Regions from separate parts of the Homo sapiens genome. Here regions 1 and 3 are each linked to region 2. Evidence: fine-mapped expression QTL. A gene starts in region 2. Each other region holds a variant in brackets. All regions are shown on one strand. Distances are from middle to middle.

What was found. PIP is the estimated chance that this variant, and not a neighbour inherited with it, causes the effect.
Region 1: its variant is the best candidate, but not a certain one, in a credible set for the expression of BIN1 in skeletal muscle (FUSION, PIP 0.65).
Region 3: its variant is the best candidate, but not a certain one, in a credible set for the expression of BIN1 in whole blood (TOPMed, PIP 0.61).

What each region holds. Positions count from the first base shown.
Region 1 is chr2:127,232,925-127,240,604 of GRCh38, forward strand. No RefSeq gene overlaps it. Among named protein-coding and RNA genes, the nearest start is that of CYP27C1, 16 kb to the left of the region's middle. The variant T/TAAA (reference allele first, on the strand shown) is at 3,962.
Region 2 is chr2:127,104,964-127,112,296 of GRCh38, forward strand. It overlaps BIN1 (bridging integrator 1), which reads right to left and starts at 2,191. Exons shown (of 19, transcript NM_139343.3): 1 at 1,897-2,191. The coding sequence starts at 1,980. It overlaps LOC105373605 (a long non-coding RNA gene), which reads left to right and starts at 2,182. Exons shown (of 4, transcript XR_923311.4): 1 at 2,182-2,852. RefSeq lists silencers at 2,039-2,248, 2,130-2,424, 2,259-2,318.
Region 3 is chr2:127,076,428-127,081,427 of GRCh38, forward strand. BIN1 (bridging integrator 1) reads right to left here. Exons shown (of 19, transcript NM_139343.3): 2 at 199-279. Among named protein-coding and RNA genes, the nearest start is that of BIN1, 28 kb to the right of the region's middle. RefSeq lists an enhancer at 4,578-4,807. The variant T/A (reference allele first, on the strand shown) is at 2,363.

The DNA of each region.
Region 1 (7,680 bases), 130 kb after region 2:
TTCCCCCAAGGCCAGGTGCAAGACAGGCACCTCTGCTGTTGCCATTTCTATGCAACATTGTACTGGGATCCTAGTCAGGGCAATTACATGAGCAAAAGAAATAAAAGAAATTAGTGTTGAAAAGGAAGAAGTAAAACTTCAGTTTTGCAAACAACATAATCTTGTATGTATAAAATTGTAAGAACCACCCACAAACACACATAAAATGCTATTAGAGCTAATAAACAAGTTCAGCAAAGCTGCAGGACACATGGTCAATAAACAATGCTGGTTGTATCTCTACCTACTAGCAACGAACAATCTGGAAATGAAATGAAGAAAATAACTTCACTTACAATAGCATCAAAAAAATAACACACTTACTTAAGAATAAATTTAACAAAAGAAGTACAAGACTTAGACTTTGAAAGCCATGAAACATTGCTGAAAGAAATATTTAAGACCTACATTAATGGAAAGACATCTCATTTAGTACATGAATTGGGAGACCTAATCTTACTAATCTTACTAATGCTCCTCAAATTGATATACTCTTACAATGTAATCCCTATCAAAATTCCAGCTGCCCTTTTTGCAGTAATTGGCAATTTGATTATAAAATATGTATGGCAATGCGAGGGACCCAGAATAGCCAAAAACATTCTTGAAAAGGAAGAACAAGGCCGGGCGTGGTGGCTCACGCCTGTAATCCCAACACTTTGGGAGGCCGAGGCAGGCGGATCACGAGGTCAGGAGATTGAGACCATCCTGGCTAACACAGTGAGACTCCGTCTCTACTAAAAAAGAAAATACAAAAAATTAGCCGGGTGTGTTGGTGGGCGCCTGTAGTCCCAGCTACTTGGGAGGCTGGGGCAGGAAAATGGCGTGAACCCAGGAGGCAGAATTGCAGTGAGCCCTTGAGCCGAGATCGCGCCACTGCACTCTAGCCTGGGCAACAGTGTGAGACTCCGTCACAAAACAAAAAAAAAGGAAGAACAAAGTTGAAGGACTCATACATCCTCATTTCAAAACTTACTAAAACTTGCGTCATAGCTACAATACTCCAGATGACATGGTACTGGCATGCAGATAGACATCTACATCAGAGGAATAGAATTGAGAGTCCAGAAATAACCCCATAGATCTATGATCAATTTCTTTTATGGTCAATTTCTTTTATTTATTTATTTACTTATTTACTTACTTACTTTTTAGAGATGAGGTCTTGCTATGTTGACCAGGCTGGTCTCAAACTCCTAGCCTCAAGCGATCCTCCCGTCTTGGCCTCCCAAAGTGCTAAGATTACAGGTGTAAGCCACCACACCTGGCCCAATTTCATTTTTGACAAAGATGCCAACACAGTTAAATGGAGAAAGAATAGTCTTTTCAACAAATGGTACTGGGACGACTGGATATCCACATGCAAAAGAATGAAGCTGGGCTTCTACCTCATACCATATATAAAAATTAACTCAAAATAGACCAAAGGCCTAAATATAAGAGACAAAACTATAAAATCCTTAGAAGAAAATGTAAGAGTAAATGTTTGTGACCTTGGATTACACAATGGTTTCTTAGGTAAGACACTTAATGCAAGTACAAGAAAAGAAAGGCTAGGTAGGCGCAGTGGCTCACGCCTGTCATCCCAACAATTTGGGAGGCCAAGGCGAGTGGATCACTTGAGGTCAGGAGTTCAAGACCAGTCTGGCCAACATGGCGAAACACCATCTCTACTAAAAATACAAAAATTAGCCGGGCGTGGTGGCGGGTGCCTGCAATCCCAGCTACTTGAGAGGCTGAGGCACAAGAATTGCTTGAACCCAGGAGGCAGATGTTGCAGTGAGCTGAGATCGCACCACTGCACTCCAGCCTGGACGACAGAGCAAGACTCTGTCTCAAAAAAAAAAAAAAAAAGGAAAGAAAGAAAAGAAAAAGTAGGTAAGTTGGAGCTCACTACAATTTAAAACTTTTGTGCTTCTGGGCCAGGTACAGTGCTTCATGCCTGCAATCCCAGCACTTTGGGAGGCCGAGGCTGGCGGATCACGAGGTCAGGAGTTCGAGACCAAACTAGCCAACATAGTGAAACCTTGTCTCCACTAAAAAAAAAAAAAAAGAAAAGAAAATTAGCAGGGCATGGTGGTGCGTGCCTGTAATCCCAACTACTCAGGAGGCTGAGGCAGGAGAATCACTTGAACCCGGGAGGCAGAGGTTGCAGTGAGCTGAGATTGTGCCATGACACTCCAGCTGGGGCGACAATGCAAGACTCCGAGAGAGAGAGAGAAAAAAGAAAGAAAGAAAAAGAAAGAAAGAAAGAAAAAAAGAAAGAAAGAAAGAAAGAAGGAAGGAAGGAAGGAAGGAAGGAAGGAAGGAAGGAACAAAGAAAGAAAGGAGGGCGGGAGGAAGGAAGGAAGAAAGGAAGGAGAAAGAGAGGAAGGAAGGAAGGAAGGAAGAAAGGAAGGAAGGAAGGAAGGAGAAGAAAGAAAGAAAGAAAGACAACCAGACTTCCAGTTTTCAGTCTGGCGTGTAAAAAGTTTGGGAGTCGTCATTCCCACCCTAACAACAAGAAAGAAGTTTGACAAGCTGAAAATCAACTGCTCTTCTTAGATCCTGCAGATAATTGAGGTCATAGGGTAAATTACTGTCTTACAAATTGGAGAGACAGATGGCAGATACAAAGAATCATGACTTGATTCACTACTTGAGTGGAAGCTCAAGAGCAGAAACCTTTATGGGAACCAGTACCAGGGTAGGAAAACTTAAACTGCAATTGCTGAATTGCTAGAGGCTCTGTTTGGACTGCTTGAGAGTTAAAAACTCCAGGGAGCCCAGTCTTAGGGGGGCCCCAACACTTGTCTGAGTTTTACTTCCAGAAGGCTTACCAGGTCATCAAGGTGAAGAGAAAAATCCCTTGGTATTTCTGTCAGTGGGGAGGGTGAAATAAGCCAGGGCATTCTATTGTTAATAAAGCCTGCCCTCAAGAGAAATGAGTTTACCAGAGCTTAACTGAGGTTTTACTAACGCTAATTGTCCTGGGGAAAGGGAAATATCCTAGTCTAGTCCCTTCTAGCTATCCTGTCCCAACAAAGGGGGAGACACTGAGAAGTACTTGTGAAGGTCACAGCACAGGAACACAGGCTCATTAAAAGACTGAGATTTAATCAAAGAACTAGAGAAGGTTTGTTCTGCCCCCACATCTTACCAGCACATCAACAGGGCTTCTGTGCAACAGAGGAGACAAAACTAACATTAGAGGAACTTTTAATATCTCTGAAACATACAGGTACATCAAATAATCAAAACAGCTTAACTCTTTGTCAAATACACATAAAGCATCATACCAAAGGCCTATTTGCCTAGGTTCTTTTTCTCAGTACCTAATGTCTGGCTTCCAACAAAAAATTACAAGGCATCCTATAAGACAAAAAATGTTTTAAAGAAACAAGGTAACCATCAAAACAAGATTCAGATGTGGCAAAGATGTTGGGATTATCAGACTGTGAATTTAAAAACACTATAATTAATATGCTAAGAGCTCTAATAGAAAAAATGAACCATATGCAATGAGAGATGGATACTGCAAGCATAGTGATGGAAACAATAAGGAAGAATCAAAAGGAAAGAAACGCTAGAAATAAAGAACACTGTCATGGAAATAATGCATTTGATGGGCTTTTAAATAGACTGGACACATGGCCGGGCGCAGTGGCTCATGTCTGTAATCCCAGCACCTTGGGAGGCTGTGGTGGCCAGATCACCTGAGGTCAGGAGTTTGAGACCAGCCTGGCCAACATAGTGAAACCCTGCCTCTACTAAAAATACAAACGTAAGCTGGACATGGTGGCACATGCCTGTAATCCCAGCTACTCAGGAGGCTGAGGCAGGAGAATCACTTGAACCTGGGAGGCAGATGTTGCAGTGAGCTGTGATCATGCTATTGCACTCTAGCCTGGGTGACAGAGCAGGATTCCATCTCAAAAAAAGT[T/TAAA]AAAAAAAAAAAAAATAGACTGGACACAGCCAAAGAAAGAATCACTGAGCTTGAAGACATGTCAATAGAAACTTCAAAAACTAAATGGTAAGAGAAAAAATAATTTTAAAAAGCAGAACAGAACATCCAATAACTGTGGGACAATTTTAAATGGTGTGACATATGCATAATGAATATCAAAACAAGAAAAAAAAGAAACAGAAAAAATATTTGAAGTAATAATGACTGAGAATTTTCCAAAATGAATGACAGACACCAAACCCCAGATTCAGAAGCTCAGGAAATCAAAGAGGATAAATACCAAAAAAATTTACACCTAGATATAGCATATTCAAACCACAGATAATCAAAGACAAAGAGACAATTTTGAATTAAGTCAAAGGGAAGAAAACACTGTACCTATGAGGAGCAAGTATAATAATTAATCAGAGTTCTCTTCATAGGCCACGCAAGTAAGAAGAGCTTGGAGCAAAATATTTTAAGTGTTGACAGAAACAACAACAAACACCACCACCAGAATCCTATACCCAGAAATATTATCCTTGAAAAGTAAAGGAGAAATAAAGACTTTCACAGACAAACAAAATTGAGAAAACTTGTCACAATTGACATACCTTGCAAGAAATGTTGAAATTCCTCAGAAAGAAAGAAAATAGTATACATCAGTGATATGGTTAGACTTTGTATCCCCGCCCAAATCTCATCTCGAATTGTAAGCCCCATTATCTCCTCATGTCAAGGGAGAGACCAGATGGAAATAAATGAATCATGGGGGCAGTTTCCCCCATGCTATTCTCATGATAGTGAATTCTCATGAGCTGATAATTTTATAAGGGGCTCTTCCCCCTTTGCTCAGCACTTCTCCTTTCTGCCTCCTTGTGAAGAAGGCACCTTGCTTCCCCTTTGCCTTCTGCCATGATTGTAAGTTTCCTGAAGCCTCCCCAATCGTGCTGAACTGTGAGTCAATTAAACCTCTTTCCTTTATAAATTACCCAGTCTTAGGCAGTTCTTTATAGCAGTATAAAAACGGACTAATACAGTAAATTGTTACCAGAAGTGGGGTGCTGCTATAAAGATACTGAAAATGTGGAAGCAACTTTGGAACTGGGTAACAGGCAGAGGTTGGAACAGTTAAGAGGGCTCAGAAGATGACAGAAGGATGTGGGAAACTTTAAAACTTCCTAGAGATTTATTAAATAGCTTTGACCAAAATGCTGATAGTGATATGGACAATGAAGTCCAGCCTGAGGTGGTCTCAGATGGAGATGAGGAACTTGTTGGGAACTAGAATAAAGGTGACTCTTGCTATGCTTTAGCAAAGAGACTGGTGGCATTTTGCCCCTGGCCTGGAGATCTGTGGAATTTTGAACTTGAGAGAGATGATTTAAGGTATCCAATGGAAGAAATTTCTAAGCAGCAAAGTATTCAAGAGGTGACCTGGGTGCTGTTAAAAGTGTTTGATTTTATGCATTCCCAAAGAGATGGTTTGGAATTGGAACTTCATGTTTGAAAGAGAAGCAGAGCATACACGTTTGGATAATTTGCAGCCTGATGATGCAATAGAAAAGAAAAACCCATTTTCTGAGGAGAAATTCAAACCGGCTTCAGAAGTATGCATAAGTGACAAGGAGCCAAATGTTAATAACCAAGACAATGGGGAAAATGTCTCCAGGACATGTCAGAGGTGTTCACAGCAGCTCCTCCCATCACAGGCCTAGAGGCCTAGAAGGAAAAAATGGCTTCATGGGCTGGGCCCAGGGTCTTGTTGCTTTATGCAGTCCTGGGAGTTGGTGCCCTGCATCCCAGCTGTGGCTAAAAAGGGCCAAGGCACAGCTCGGGCCATGGCTTCACAGGATGCAAGCCCCAGGCCTTGATGGCTTACATGTGTTGTCGGGCCTGCAGGTGCACAGAAGTCAAGAATTGAGGTTTGGGGCCAGGCACAGTGGCTCATGCCTGTAATCCCAGCACTTTGGGAGGCCAAGGGGGATGGATCACATAAGGTCAAAAGTTCGAGACCAGCCTGGCAAACATAGTGAAACTCCGTCTCTACTAAAAATACAAAAATTAGCTGGGTATGATGGTGTGTGCCTGTAGTCCCAGCTACTTGGGAGGCTGAGATGGGAGAATCACTTGAACCTGGGAAGTGGAGGTTGCAGTGAGCCAAGATTGCACCACTGCACTCCAGCCTGGGCAACAGAGTGAGACTCTGTCTCAAAAACAAAAACAAAATTGAGGTTTGGGAGCCTCCACCTAGATTTTAGAGGATGTATGGAAATGCCTGGATGACCAGGCAGAAGTTTGCTGCAGGGGCAAGGCCTTCATAGAGAACCTCTGCTAGGGCAGTGCAAAAGGGAAATATAGGGTCAGAGCCCTGACAGAGTCCCCACTGGGGCACTGCCTAGTGGAGCTGTGAGAACAGGGCCACTGCCCTCCAGACCCCAGGATGGTAGGTCCACTGACTGCTTGCACCATGTACCCAGAAAAGCCACAGACACTCCATGCCAGCCCATGAAAGCAGCTGAGAGGAGGCCTGTTTCATCAGCATGATCTGGATGTGAAACATGGAGTCAAAGGAGGTCATTTCAGAGCTTTAAGGTTTGACTGTCCTGCTGGATTTCAGGCCTGCATGGGGCCTGTCATCCTTTTGTTTTGGCCAATGTCTCCTATTTGAAATGGGTGTATTTACCCAATGCCTGTACCCCCATTGTGTCTAGGAAGTACCTAATTTGCTTTTGACTTTACAGGCTCATAAGCGGAAGGGACTTCCCTTGTCTTAGATGAGACTTTGAACTTGGACTTTTGGGTTAATCCTAGAATGAACAAAGACTTTGGAGGACTGTTTGGAAGGCATGATTGGTTTTGAAATATGAAAGGGACATGAGATTTGGGAGGGGCCAGGGGCAAAATGATATGATTAGGCTTTGTGTCCCCCTACTCAAATCTCATCGTGAATTGTAATCCCCATAATCCCTACATGTCAAGGGAAAGACCGGATGGAGATAATTGAATCATAGGGGCTGTTTCCCCCATGTTGTTCTCATGACAGTGAGTGAGTTCTCACGAGATCTGATGGTTTTATAGAGTTCTTCCCCCTTTGCTTGGCACTTCTACTTCCGGACGCCTTGTGAAGAAGGTGCCTTGCTTCCCCCTTTGCCTTCTGCCATGATTATCAGTTTCCTGATGCCTCCCCAGCCATGCTGAATTGTGAGTCAATTAAACCTCTTTCCTTTATAAATTACCCAGTGTTGGGCACTTCTTTATAGCAGTATGAAAATGGACTAATACAATCAGAAACTCAGATCTACATAAATAATGAGTATTACAGAAGGAACTCATGAAGATAAAGTAAAATCTCTTATTTTTCTTATTCTCAATTGATATAACATAACAGTTTGTTCAAAACAAAAAGCTACAAAGTATCCAATGATTGTAGCTTATGGATAAGTGAAAATGACAGCAATGTTATTAAGATATGAAAGAGAAGAATTATGAATACTCAGTGGTTAGGTACTTGCACTACCTGTGAAGGGGTAGAGTATTATTTGAAAGAAGACTTGGATTCGTTGTAAATGTTTATTGCAATCTCAAGGGCAGCCACTAAAAAGGCAAACAAAAAAACATAATTTGGCCAGGGGTGGTGGCTTAAGCTTGCAATCCCAGCACTTTGGGAGGCCAAGGTAGGCAGATCACTTGAGGTCAGGAGTTCGAGACCAGCCTGA
Region 2 (7,333 bases):
GAAGCCCGGCATGGGCAAGGTCAGCTGTTGGCCAAGACCAGCATGCCTAGCTGACCAACTGTCAGCCAACTGCCCGTGGCCACAGAACAGGGGCTCAAGAGAGAGGGATGGTGTCTCAGGAGCTCAGTGATACATCACCACCTCCTTGGAGGGGACACAGCCCTTGCCTACTGCCCCGAGAATGACATCAAAGATGCTGCTGCAGAGAAAAGACAACCAGGGCAAAGGAGACACACCAAGAGCCTTGGGGAGCCAGGAAGGGGTGGGACACCAGTGGGAAGGGGGCAGGGAACACAGCTCAGCTAACCTCCCTTCCCATTCATCTCCCTGGCCCTTTAGGGAAGGAAGCAGGCTCTGGCCCAGGGCTGCCTGCTCCAGGCACACAGATGGATTACCCAGTCATGGCAGCCCGGAGCAGGGGTGGCTGCATCTGTGCTGCCACCCCCCCACCCCACAACCTGAAGTCTTCCCAGCCCCCAGCCAGCTATTCCTGGGGCTTTAATCCCTCCTCCTCCTCCTCCTCCTCCTCCTCCTCCTCCTTCCCTGGGGTGGGGGGTTGGGGAGCTGGGTCTGGGCAAACCTGGACTTGGCTGAGGGCCCTTCCTTCAATGCACACCCACCCACCTCCTTAGCCAGGAAACACAGGGATGAGCAGTAGGACTCTGAGGGAGGTATGGGGAAGCTCTAGGCGCCCCCCTCTCCCCCATCCCCCAGCAATCACGTGGTTGCATCCTTAGGGAGCCCGCGGGTCTCAGAAGCAAAAGTCATTGTTTATAAACAGCCACCAGGCCTGGCAGGGGAAGGCCGGCCTGTCCCTGCGCCTCCACCCGGCGGCCGCGCAGCGGGTGGGAGAGGGGGCAGGCCTGGCCGCGGGGCACTGGGGGGCCACCCTGGCAGAAACACAGATTCTGCAATCTCAGATTTCAGAGTTGGAGTCGTCAGGGGAAGTGGCGTCAGCAGCTGGCGTGATCCAATTCAATAAACCAGAGGTGGCTTGGGATAGACAACTGACCGGGTGCAGACCCCCGCCCCTCAATCTCTGCATTTCCTGCACGCTCTGGGCACCCTGGGAGGCCCCGGCTCCATCCCCCATTCCAGCTCTCCGCGAGGAGGGGTCGGGTTTCCTGTGGCGCCTTCCACGCGCCTCCTCCAGGCCAGCTCCCCACCCGGCCGTGGGCTCCCAAAGCCAGTGCCGCCACCCGCTCCCCGGCCGCCGGAAACGCTAAGCCCCTGCTGGGGCGAGGGCACCTCCTTGCGGGGTGCGTAGCCCTGGGCTCCCGGTGGGGCCGGGCTGGGCGGGAGCTTCCAGGCCGCAGGCACCTCTCGGGAAAGGAAACCCAATCCCTCCTTCGGCCCACGGAGAACGAAAGTGGAGAAGCAGTGGGAAGGAAGGAACTGTGGGTGCCGGTTCGAGAAGCAGCCTTGGGAGTCCGGGGGAATAGTGTCCCCAGGGGCAGAGGGACATACTCCCTCTCGCCCCGAGCGCCGGCCCAGCCTAGGTTGCCTGCATGGGCCTGGAGAGCTGAGGGTCACCACCTGGCCTCCCAGCCTCCCGGCCCTTGGCCTCCAAAGCGGGGTAGCCTGGAGCGCGCGCCTGAGAAGAGCCTGGAGCAGGGCCGGCCACTGCTGTGCAGCCGAGCCACGAAGGTGCAAAGCGGGGCCCTGTCCTGCCCCGGCCGGGTGTGGGGAGACAGAGGACGCAAACCTAAGAGGGCACCCAGAGCGCCGGGGAACGCAGCCTGGGGACCTCGAAGCCCCTCGAAAGCGCTCCTCTAGAGGTGACAGCACCAGATCCTGGCGAAGGACCAGGCCCCGGGGTCGGAGGATAGGGGGACAGGTGGCCGGGGCTCCGCGGCGGCTGGGACTCCGCGGCTGCTGGGGCTCCGGCTCGCTCACCTTCTCCTGCGCGCGGGTGAGCTTCTTCTGCACGTTGCTGGCGATCTTTCCCGCCGTCACCCCTTTACTGCCCATCTCTGCCATCGCGGCGCAGGCCTCGCCCGGTGGCAGGGGCCGCTCTCGCGCGGGGAGATCTTGCGCGCCGCGCTCCCAGCCCCCAGCCCCGGCCGCGCGTCCAGACCGGCTGCCGCTCCACGCCGCGCACCCGACAGCGGAGCCAACTGACGGAGGCGGAGCGTGCGCCGGACGGGCGAGCGAGCCAGCGAGCTAGCCAGCGAGCGACGCGGGGACAGAGGGAGGGAGAGGGGAGGGGCCGGGCCTCAGGCCGCGGTCGGCGCCCCCCGCCCGCCCCCTCCGGACAATAAGCTGCCTTTTAAAGGGCCACTCCGGGCGCCGGCACCGCCAGGTCCGCGAGGAGGGAGGGGCGCGCGCGGCGCTGGGGCTGCGGCGAGCGGGACTCCCCTGACGCTCCAGCTGCACCGCCCCGGGGCGGGGACTAATCCGCCGGCCTGGCGTCTTGGTCTTCCCCGCAAGCAGTAATCTCCTGCAACCCAGGAAAGGAGACTAGGTGGAGGAGAGGAGTGCTTTCGAAATCAAAGAGAAAGTGCGGCGAAGGGGGCGCGGCCCTGAACAGAGGAGCCGCGGCTGCTGGGAGAACGCGCCCGGAGCCCCCTCCTTTTCCAGGGGCTCACCTCCCGCCCGGTGCCCGGTGCCCGGTGCCCGACGCTCCGCCTCCTCCCAGCCTTCGGCCCTCGGGTTTTCGCCCGGATACCCTAGGCGCCTCCGGGACATCTCCACATCTTTGCCTACGGCGCCTAGCCCAGTACCAACCGGTGCTTGGTCTTCCCGTTCGCTAAAAATTTATTATAATAACAACAACCTAGCATTACTGAGTGCTTACTGTGTACTAAGTGACTTGACAGGCATTATTTCATTCGGTCTCCGTGGCCCTAGAGGTAGGTGCTATTACTGTTCCTACTTTACAACCAACGCGCCGGGATCGAGGAACGAGATCTCTGCCTCTGTCTCCCAGGTGCTCCACCACCATACGCCGGGTTGTCTCCTACCCCCAGCAGGAAGGAATGATTAGTGATCATTATTCCTGGAGAAGATAAGGTTATTGCTAACCAGCTTTGCCAATAGACCAATGACACTTCTTTTAAGTTAATAAATACGTATTGAGTCTGCTGATACCCACCCCCATTCAGCCCTAAAACATGTCAGGGGCTACAGCACTTTGCTGCCCCTGGAAATTTCTAAAGAACTGTTGATTGAGTTGAGCAGAGAGATAGGTCCCGCTGAAGAGGCCTAGACGTGTCTGGTGCACACACAGGAGCCAGGGCTATGGCCTGCAGGACCCGCAGCGGTCAGAGGAGCAGAGCTGGCCAGGGACAGAGGTCCCTGAGAGGCTTCCTGGAGGAACAGGAAGGGCTCTTGCAGACCACAAACCAAGCAGTTTGTACAAATGGAGAAATCGAGTCCCAGGAATGAGAGGTTCAGCCTGGGTTCACACAGGCCATTCCCTCTTCCCTGGAAGGCCCTCCTGCTCTTTCTCCGGCTACTCGGGGTTCTTCCACCACCGCTCAGTGCTGCCCCATGGCCCAGTGTGTTCGTCTGTCCTCTTCCGGGCCTATTATCATGATGTCCCTCGGTATCCCCCAGGGGACTGGTTCCAGCACATCCGTGGATACCAAAATCCAGGGATGCTCAAGTCCCTCATATGAATTGACACAGTATCTGCATATAGCGTACACAAATCCTCCAAAATACTTTAAATTATCTCTAGATTCTTGTAATAGCTAATACAATTTAAATACTATGTAAATAGTTGTTAACGCTGTATTTTTTATTTATTTATTTATTTATTTTTAGACAGAGTCTCACTCTGTCGCCAGTCTGGGGTGCAGTGGCGCAATCTGGGCTCACTGCAACCTCTGCCTCCCGGGTTCAAGTGATTCTCCTGCCTCAGCCCCCCGAGCAGCTGGGACTACAGGCACGTGCCACCATGCCCAGCTAATTTTTGTATTTTTAGTAGAGACGGAGTTTCACCATGTTGGCCAAGATGGTCTCCATCTCCTGACCTCGTGATCCTCCCGCCTTGGCCTCCCAAAGTGCTGGGATTATAGGTGTGAGCCACCGTGCCCGGCCTTGTTTTTTATTTATATTATTTTATTGTTGTAGTCTTACTTTTTATTGTATTTTTCCAAATATTTTCAGTCCACAGTTGGTTGGATCCATGGATGCCCAACCCACAGATGCAGAGGGCTGACTGTATTCTTATTCTGCAGGAAGACAGACTGAGGCGCCGCTGATGTAGGTCACACAGACAGCAAATGATAAGCAGAGATTCTGCATCAAGCCTTCCTGCACCAATGCCCTCAAAAGCACCAAGCGCTGCATGAGTGAAAAGCATCTGTCAAAATTATTATAAACTCATGCCCGATTTGTGAGTCACAAAAGCAAAACCTACACAGTCTGGGCTTCTAAAGCAGCTTCCTCCTAAAAGCTCAACATGCTTTCAGCTCATGATCTCCTTCCTCCTCATTTTCTGTTGGTCGTTTTTCTAACCATTCTCTAAAAGTGATTTCTTCCAACACTCCTCTGAGGAAAGGAGGAAATGAGCAAAGTCAAATTGCATTACAGTCAGCCCCCAGGGAACAGTGGGAGATTCTGCTTCACTGGACTCTGGTGTTTCTAAATATCGCTTGACAGAAAAATTGGAAGCAACGGAAGTGTTCATTAGAGGGATGGGGTCAGCTGTGACAGCACAGCCACAGGAGGGGCCATTGGGAATCATTTAAAACAACCATTACCGAGACTACGTAGCAACAAGAAAATAATGCTTAGGGCATAATTATGAAGGAAAGGAAAAGATAGGAAATTGTACTTGCAACCATATAAAAATAAATTAAAATAAATTAAAAGCTCATGATCAATGTCTTGAAAGAACAATGCATAAAGGAAGCAGATGTGTTAGGGTCCAGGCATTAAGGCTGACTTCTTTCCCCCTTAATTTCCTTAATATTCTATAATATGACATAATGCCTTGCCTATAATCCCAGCACTTTGGGAGGCCAAGGCAGGCGGATCACTTGAGGTTGGGAGTTCGAGACCAGCCTAACCAACATGGAGAAACCCTGTCTCTACTAAAAATACAAAATTAGCCGGGCGTTGTGGTGCATGCCTGTAAGCCCAGCTACTCGGAAGACTGAGGCAGGAGAATCACTTGAACCTAGGAGGCAGAGGTTGCGGTGAGCCGAGATCGCACCATTGCACTCCAGCCTAGGCAACGAGAGCAAAACTCCATCTCAAAAAAAAAAAGAATCACAGCTCTGTTTTTTTAGAGGTGATTTTTTATCAGATCGCTAGATTAAAAAGATATTTCTAAACACAAAAGCACTGGAGAATATATTGAAATTTTAAAATGCTTGCTTTGAGGTACATAAAAATTAGAATTCTTAAACTTCAGAAAATACCATAAAAACATAGGATAAAAGTTTGGGAGGAAATGATCTAAAAATGTTAGTACAAGTTCAAGGGGTAGAATGTAGATTTTTACTTTTTTCTGTATAATTTTCTATAGTATGTTATTTTTTTTTACCATGACAGCCCGTTATTTTAATTACCAGGAAAAGAGTTATTCCCATTTTGAAAATAAGTTTGACATAAAAATTAAACTGTAAGAAACTAGGGAAAATTTTTTTGGCAATAAAATAGAACTCTTACAAATTCATAAGAAAAACATTAAAACCCCAATATATAGTAGACAATTTATAAAATTGGATATTCAAATAATTAATAAATAGGTTTTCGAAAGTCAGACTTACCAGACAAAAAGAAAGGTTCATTAAATCAATGAAATACCATTTCTGTTTTCATTTTCATCAAATCAACAAATTATTTTTTAAATTATGTTACTTAATAAAACCATAGAGACAGAAACTCACATTCTACTTCTGAGAGTGTAAACAGATAACAGAATTTCTAGAAAGCAATCTTGTAATAGAATAAGAATAACCAAAATATCCATATTCTTCCACCCTATAATTCCAAGTCTATGATTTAATTCAAAAATTTGGCAAAGCTTTCACCACACAGATGTTCATCACATTATTTATAATAATGCAAAACTGAACACATCTAAATATCACCACCTGAATGCCGAATGATTAACTAAACTATAGTATGGCCATGTATGAAATGTTTACCAAAAGAATATGTTCTTGAAGTTTCTCATGATAGGGAAATGTGATGTTAACAGGATAATACAGTTTAATGTAAACAGTATCGTGCCAGCCGCGATCCAAAACGTGATTGATATCTCCAGGTGGAGCAATTCGGGGTGGGGTTTTTTTCTCCTACTTCTTTTTCTTTTTATTTTCCAAACTTTGTACATGTACTCTTTTTGTCATCAGAAAGAAGTGCTATTAAAAATACAAATTGAAATGAGGACAATGTCCCCTGGGGCAATAGTTGGGAAACCTCAGTGTGGCAGAATAGAAAGATAAAGCACACAGGCAGAGGGAGTGTGCCGTGCATCCAAACGGTGAGGGCTGGAGAAGCCATGTTTCTGTGTTTGTTTGCTTGTTTGTTTTAAATAGACTTTATTTTTATTTTTTTTTTTTTGAGACGAAGTCTCGCTCTTGTACCCCAGGCTGGAGTGCAATGGCTCGATCTCAGCTCACTGCAACCTCTGCCTCTCGGGTTCAAGTGATTCTCCTGCCTCAGCCTCCCGAGTAGCTGGGATTACAGGCGCCCAACACCACACCCAGCTAATTTTTGTATTTTTAGTAGAGATGGGGTTTCACCGTGTTGGCCAGGCTTTTAGAACACTTTTAGGTTCAGAGCAAAAGTAAGCAGAAGGTACAGAGATTTCCCATAACCTTTGCCCCACACATGCACAACCCCCCTCACTATCAACATCCCCAGCACAGTGGGACATTTGTTACAACTGAGGCACCTCCGTTGTTGCATCATTATCCCCCATAGTTCATAGTTTATGTGAGAACTCACTCTTGGCTTGTACGTTCTATGGGTCTGGGCAAGTGTACAATGGTACGTGTCTACTGTTAGAGTATCATATAGAACAGTTTCGCTGCCCTAAGAATCCTCTGTGCTCTGCCTGTTCATCCCTCCCTCCACCCCCCAGCCCCTGGCAACCACTGATCTTTTTGCTGTCTCCATAGTTTAGCCTTTTCTAGAATAAATGCCGTATTATTGGAACCATACAGTTTGTAGCCTTTTCAGACTGGCTTCTTTCACTTAGCAATATGCATCTAAGTTTCCTCCATGTCTCTTCATGGCTTGATCATTTCCTCTGGCACTGAGTAATGTTCCCTTTTCTGGATGCACCACACTTTATTTACCCACTCACCTATTGCAGAACATCTTGGTTGCTTCTGAGTTCAGGCCATTATGAATAAAGCTGCTATAAACA
Region 3 (5,000 bases), 30 kb before region 2:
CATACATACCCCATCCCTCTTCCTTCCCAGCATGCATTGCCAGTGCTCCCTCCTCTAGGAAGTCTTACATGATCTTGTCAGCCCACACTGATTACCCTCCTCCAAGCTCTCGTACTCCACAAATTCAGCTCGTGCCATTTTTCACCTGGCAGCCGAATTTTCACAAACTCCCTAAGGCCAAGGGCCACCCACACTCACCAGCTGCTTGTTGAAATTCTGGACGCACTGCTCAAACTGCTCATCCTTGGTCTCATCTGCCTTCCCCAGCTTCTGGAGAACCTGCCGAAGCCAAGAGAGAAGGGGAGAGTGTTACCTTGGAAAGGAGAGTGGTCAAACCAAGAGTGCTCAGTCACCAACAGCACAGACCAGGGGCTGGGAAGTCTCTAGCCAACATCACCCAGCCCAGGGTGCCCACCCAGGGCTGCAATCCCAGGGCATGGCTGGGTCCATCAGGTTTTCAGGCCTCCCCACCCTCTACCCAGGGCTCGACAATAGGCCAAAAATGGAGCTTAGGACAGGCTTGACGTAGTGACCACAGCCAGGAGGAGGGAGGCTTCAAAGATGGCAAGAAGGATCGGGCACCCTCCTAGCTGATCTCACACTGCACCCCTGGGTGCTCCGCCCCCACCCTGGAAGCTGAAAAGTGAGCCACGCAGGGGAGGGGCCAAGCAGGAGCAGCCTCACTTCTCCGCATGACTCTATTCCCTGGGCCCAGGCCCATGAATGCCACAGGCAACAGCAGAGCAGGCCCTGAACCGGCAGGAGCCATCCCGGAACAAGGAGGGCAGCGAGCGGTGGCCAGGAGCTGCCGGGGGCCACGCAGAGTCTGCTTCTGATCTGACTGGGTTTTTAGATGTGACCTGCCCCAGGCACTCTGCTCTGCACAGCCCACACACACACACACACACACAAAACACACAAGGGCACACACATGAGCTCACAGCTCTGCTCCCAACCATGAGTCTCAGAGGTGGACTCCCCCTCAACCCCCCACGATGAGTGGCAGGGGGAGATGAAGGATGGGTGGGCAAGGGCAGAGAAGAGGAGCCACACCAGGAGAGGGGAAAGCTCTAGGAAAGGAGGGCGCTGGCCAGGACCCTGAGAACATATGCTGACCATCACGCTCTCCCAGACTTCCCTCTCTGGGCCCTGCTCCTCCAATCCCAGAGCTCCACATGACGGAGAGAGAGGTGGGAGCAGGGAGACAAAATACAGAGGCAAGGAGCGGTGGTGGGGCACGGTAGGAAAGAGCAGGAGAAGAAAAAGACAAAGAGCTGGGGCACAGAAAAGGGATGAGGAGTGCCAGATGGGTTTGCAGGAGAGCAGAGGGGAAGACCAGGGTGGCGGCGGGACACACCCGTCTGCAGCCAAAGAGGCACCTCCATCAGGGCGGCAGAAAGGCCAACACTGATGTCTCAGCAGAGGCCTCTCCCAGGCAGTGGGCAAGACCTCACAAGAATGAGAAGGAAACGGGGGTAGGGGATGGGAGTGGAAAGCAAAGGGAGAAAAAGGTGGGCCCAGGAGCGGTGGGGAGCCCCAGGAGCAAAGGGCCAGCCCAGCATCTGCTGAGGCCAGTAGGTCTGCAGACATCCCTCCCTTCCAAGACCCGGAGCCAGCCCATGCTGCCAGGAACATCAGCTTTGGGGCCCAGGGCCCAGGCCACGGTCCTGGACCAACGGATGCCTGGTACCAGGACACAGCCAGGACCCTTCCCACCCTGCCGGCCCTTGCAGGTCCTGTGCTGCCCTGCTGCACTTCCCCCCCCAGCCAGGCCCAGAAGCCTTGGCAAGGCCAGCTGCTCTTGGCCATCTCTCACCAAGCACTTGCTCTGTGCCTGGCCTTGGGCACCTTGGCCGGTACAGCAGAGAGGAATCAGATGTGGGTCTCTGTCCTGACATGGGGGAACACTTAAGGCTGTGGGACCCTGGGGGTAGAGATCTCTTCTAGCCTGGGCAGTCAGTGAGACTTCCTGGAGTGGGTGGCAGCTCAGACAGAGGGGAGAGGTTGCAACAAAGGTAAGGAGACCAGAAAGATGGAGCATCTTACTGGGGAGTTTTGAATTGCTCAAGGTGACTAGAGGTCACAGAGGATGGAGTGGGAAAGTGAGAGTGGCAGCAGGGGGCAGGTGGGCACCGGGAGGCAGCCACCGATGATGTTGTGCTACAGCGGTCGGGACACAGCCCCTTGGGCAACTGCAGCTGGATGCCAAGGGCTGACACAGGGATGAGAGAAAAACCAAAACAAAACCCCCACATGAGCAAGAAAATGTACACTGCACAACTTGCAGGCTCCCCACTGCTGCCCCTCCCTGGCAGCCACATCCAGAAGGGACCCCCCAGAAAGTGGGCTGAGCTGGGGAGGT[T/A]CCTCACCCGGCTCTGCAAAGAGCTTGGGTAGGTGACTCAGCCCCTCTGCTCAGGCACCCACCCCACAGCCCCACCCCCTCCAAAGAGAGGAATAGACCACCACATAGAAAAGAACTCCCAGAAGTCTACCAGAGCCACCAGAGAGAGCCAGAAGCTCTCAGAAACAGGGCAGGGACTGCCCAGCTCCCAAGGCAAGAGCACCAGGAAGGATGCCCCTTCCACGCCCTGCCCTCCCTCTCCCCAGGAAGACAGACACACTCAGCCAGCAAAAGGTCCCCAGTCTTCCCCACCCACACTGGCCACCAGGGCTCCTGAGGTGTACAGAGACAGACACACACTCGACCCAGTTCCCAAACACTGCTGTGTGCTCTGCACAGACAGCTGGAGAACTGGGGAGATCTTCCAGCCTTGAGAACGAGACACCAGCCCAGGTGAGACTCCACGCAGCAGTGAGAAGACCCTTGGGAAAAGGGACAGCTACTCTCTGAGCCTCAATCTACAAAATGAAGTGAACACTGGCACCCTCCTCAAGGATTACAAAGATCATGTCTATAAAGTGCAGAGCAGTACCTGGCCCATGATATTCAAGAAATGGCAAATCCCTAAAAGGCCTTCAGAGCAGCCTTCACACAGGTGGGGGATGGGCCTGACTGACACCGCCAGCCCTCACACCGGGTCCAGGCTGACGGCATCCCAAGATGTGAGACAGAAGTCACAGACGCGCACACTCTACCTGCACATGGCAAACTCCTATGCATCCTTCAAAACCTCACTCAGGTGACATCACTGTGAACTGTCCCTGATCTCTCCTTTCCTCAAAACACTCTGTACCACTTAGAGCTTTCCTCACTGCTATGTGATGTGCCTGTGTGCCTCACACCCTCACCCTGAAGGAACAGCTTGAGGTCAGGGACACTGTTCCAGTCATCTCTGTGTCCCCAACACCCACACAGGGCTAAGCACAGGACAGACACACAAGATATTCTCAGCGGCTGCTGCTCATCTGAGCTGTGGGCTTTGAGGGCAGAGACATGACCCTAAACAAAACAACCCACCTCTCAGCCTCAGGCTCCTCCCAGACAAAATGGAAGGGTAATGTACAGAAAGCCCTCAGCCCTGAGGGGTGACAGCAAGCCTGAGGCTGAGCCAGTCTCCCCACTCTGCGAGACCTCAGGCTGCTGAAGCTCTCAGTGCTCCAGTGCCCCCGCCTTGGAAATGGGAGGAATAACAAGGCCACAGCATGGCCGAGGCCCAGGGAAGACCCATGGGCGAGGCTGGCCTTGGCCACATGCCATCCTCACTGCACCTACCCCCATTTCATCCATGAGGGAACGCAGGCAAGTGGCCTGGGGTCCCCATCCTCAAGGAGCTCCTGGTGTGGCTACCACAGGGAAAAACAATCTGGGCACCCCCTGCCCCAGAACAGGAGCTGGGACAAGGCCGTGAGCCCTGGGACACAGATCTCCCACCCCATCCGTTCCACACTTGGTTAGTGGGGCCTCCCCTGTGCCGAGCTCACAGGCAGACCACTGAGGGACACAGGGGACTCCAGGTGTCCAGGAGGGGCTGGCCCAGCAGCGACTAAGGAAAGCTGGGCAGGACAGTTGTGCTGGGTTTTGAAGGATGAGCAGGAGTTGGGTGAGGAGGAGGGTCTGGCGGCACAGGCCAGGATTTGCACTCTGTCCAGGGTTACTGGGTGAGGGCCCCTTAGACAATCAGTTCCACCTACACTCATCACACACTTATCACGCACACTCACTCTGTGATAAACAAAGGGGAGCCTTTGAAAACTTGGCGGCGGACGAGACACACAGAGGCCCAGGCGGCAGAGGCAGCCACAGAGCCAACAGTCCCAGGAGCTTTATCAGTGCCACACCCAATCACCTCCTATCAGAGCTTCCTCTCACCATGTCCTCAACCCAAGGCCAGATGTGAGTGGAGCTGAAGTGCCTTGGAGGGGACACCCCAGGGCAGGGCAGGGAGGGGGGGCAGGTGGCAGGAATGACAAAGTGTGAACCCGTGGCCAGCTCCAGAACCTCCTCCTGCAATCATCCACAGGGTTCAGCCTCGCTGGGCCTCGGCTGTGGAAGGAAACCCTCCCAAGGCTCCTCCCTAGAAAGGCTGGGTGGTTCACTGAGTTGACGCCATGCCTCCGGCACCCGGGTCCACAGGGGCTCAGTGGGAGCATCCCGTGGGTGGGTGCCCCTCCCCAGCCCTCCGCCAAGGCCTTTGTCATGGCCCAGTGAGAGGGCAGAAGGCCCTGGCGTCAGCCGCTCCCTGTGGGTACAGGGAGTCCTGCCACCCTCCAACAGCCCCCGCATGGCAGGCAAGGCCCTGACCCACAGCGTGAGTCATGGGGCACAGGCAGTGCACGGCCACCGAACCCAGAAGGAGGAAGGGTGCCCAGGCCTGTCTTGTTTGAGCCAGGAGCAGCTCACCACGTACAGCACCCACCCACCATGCACGCACTTCAAGTCACCAGGGCCGCCTCCTCAGAAGGGAAGTGTCCTTATGTGACAGATGGCAGGTGAGCACAAACAAATCAGGACACAGCCTGACACCGTCCAGTCAGGAGGGGCCAGGAGCTCTAGCCGCCACAGTGAGGAGGGCCGGGTCTTCGGGCTCACCCGGCTGGGC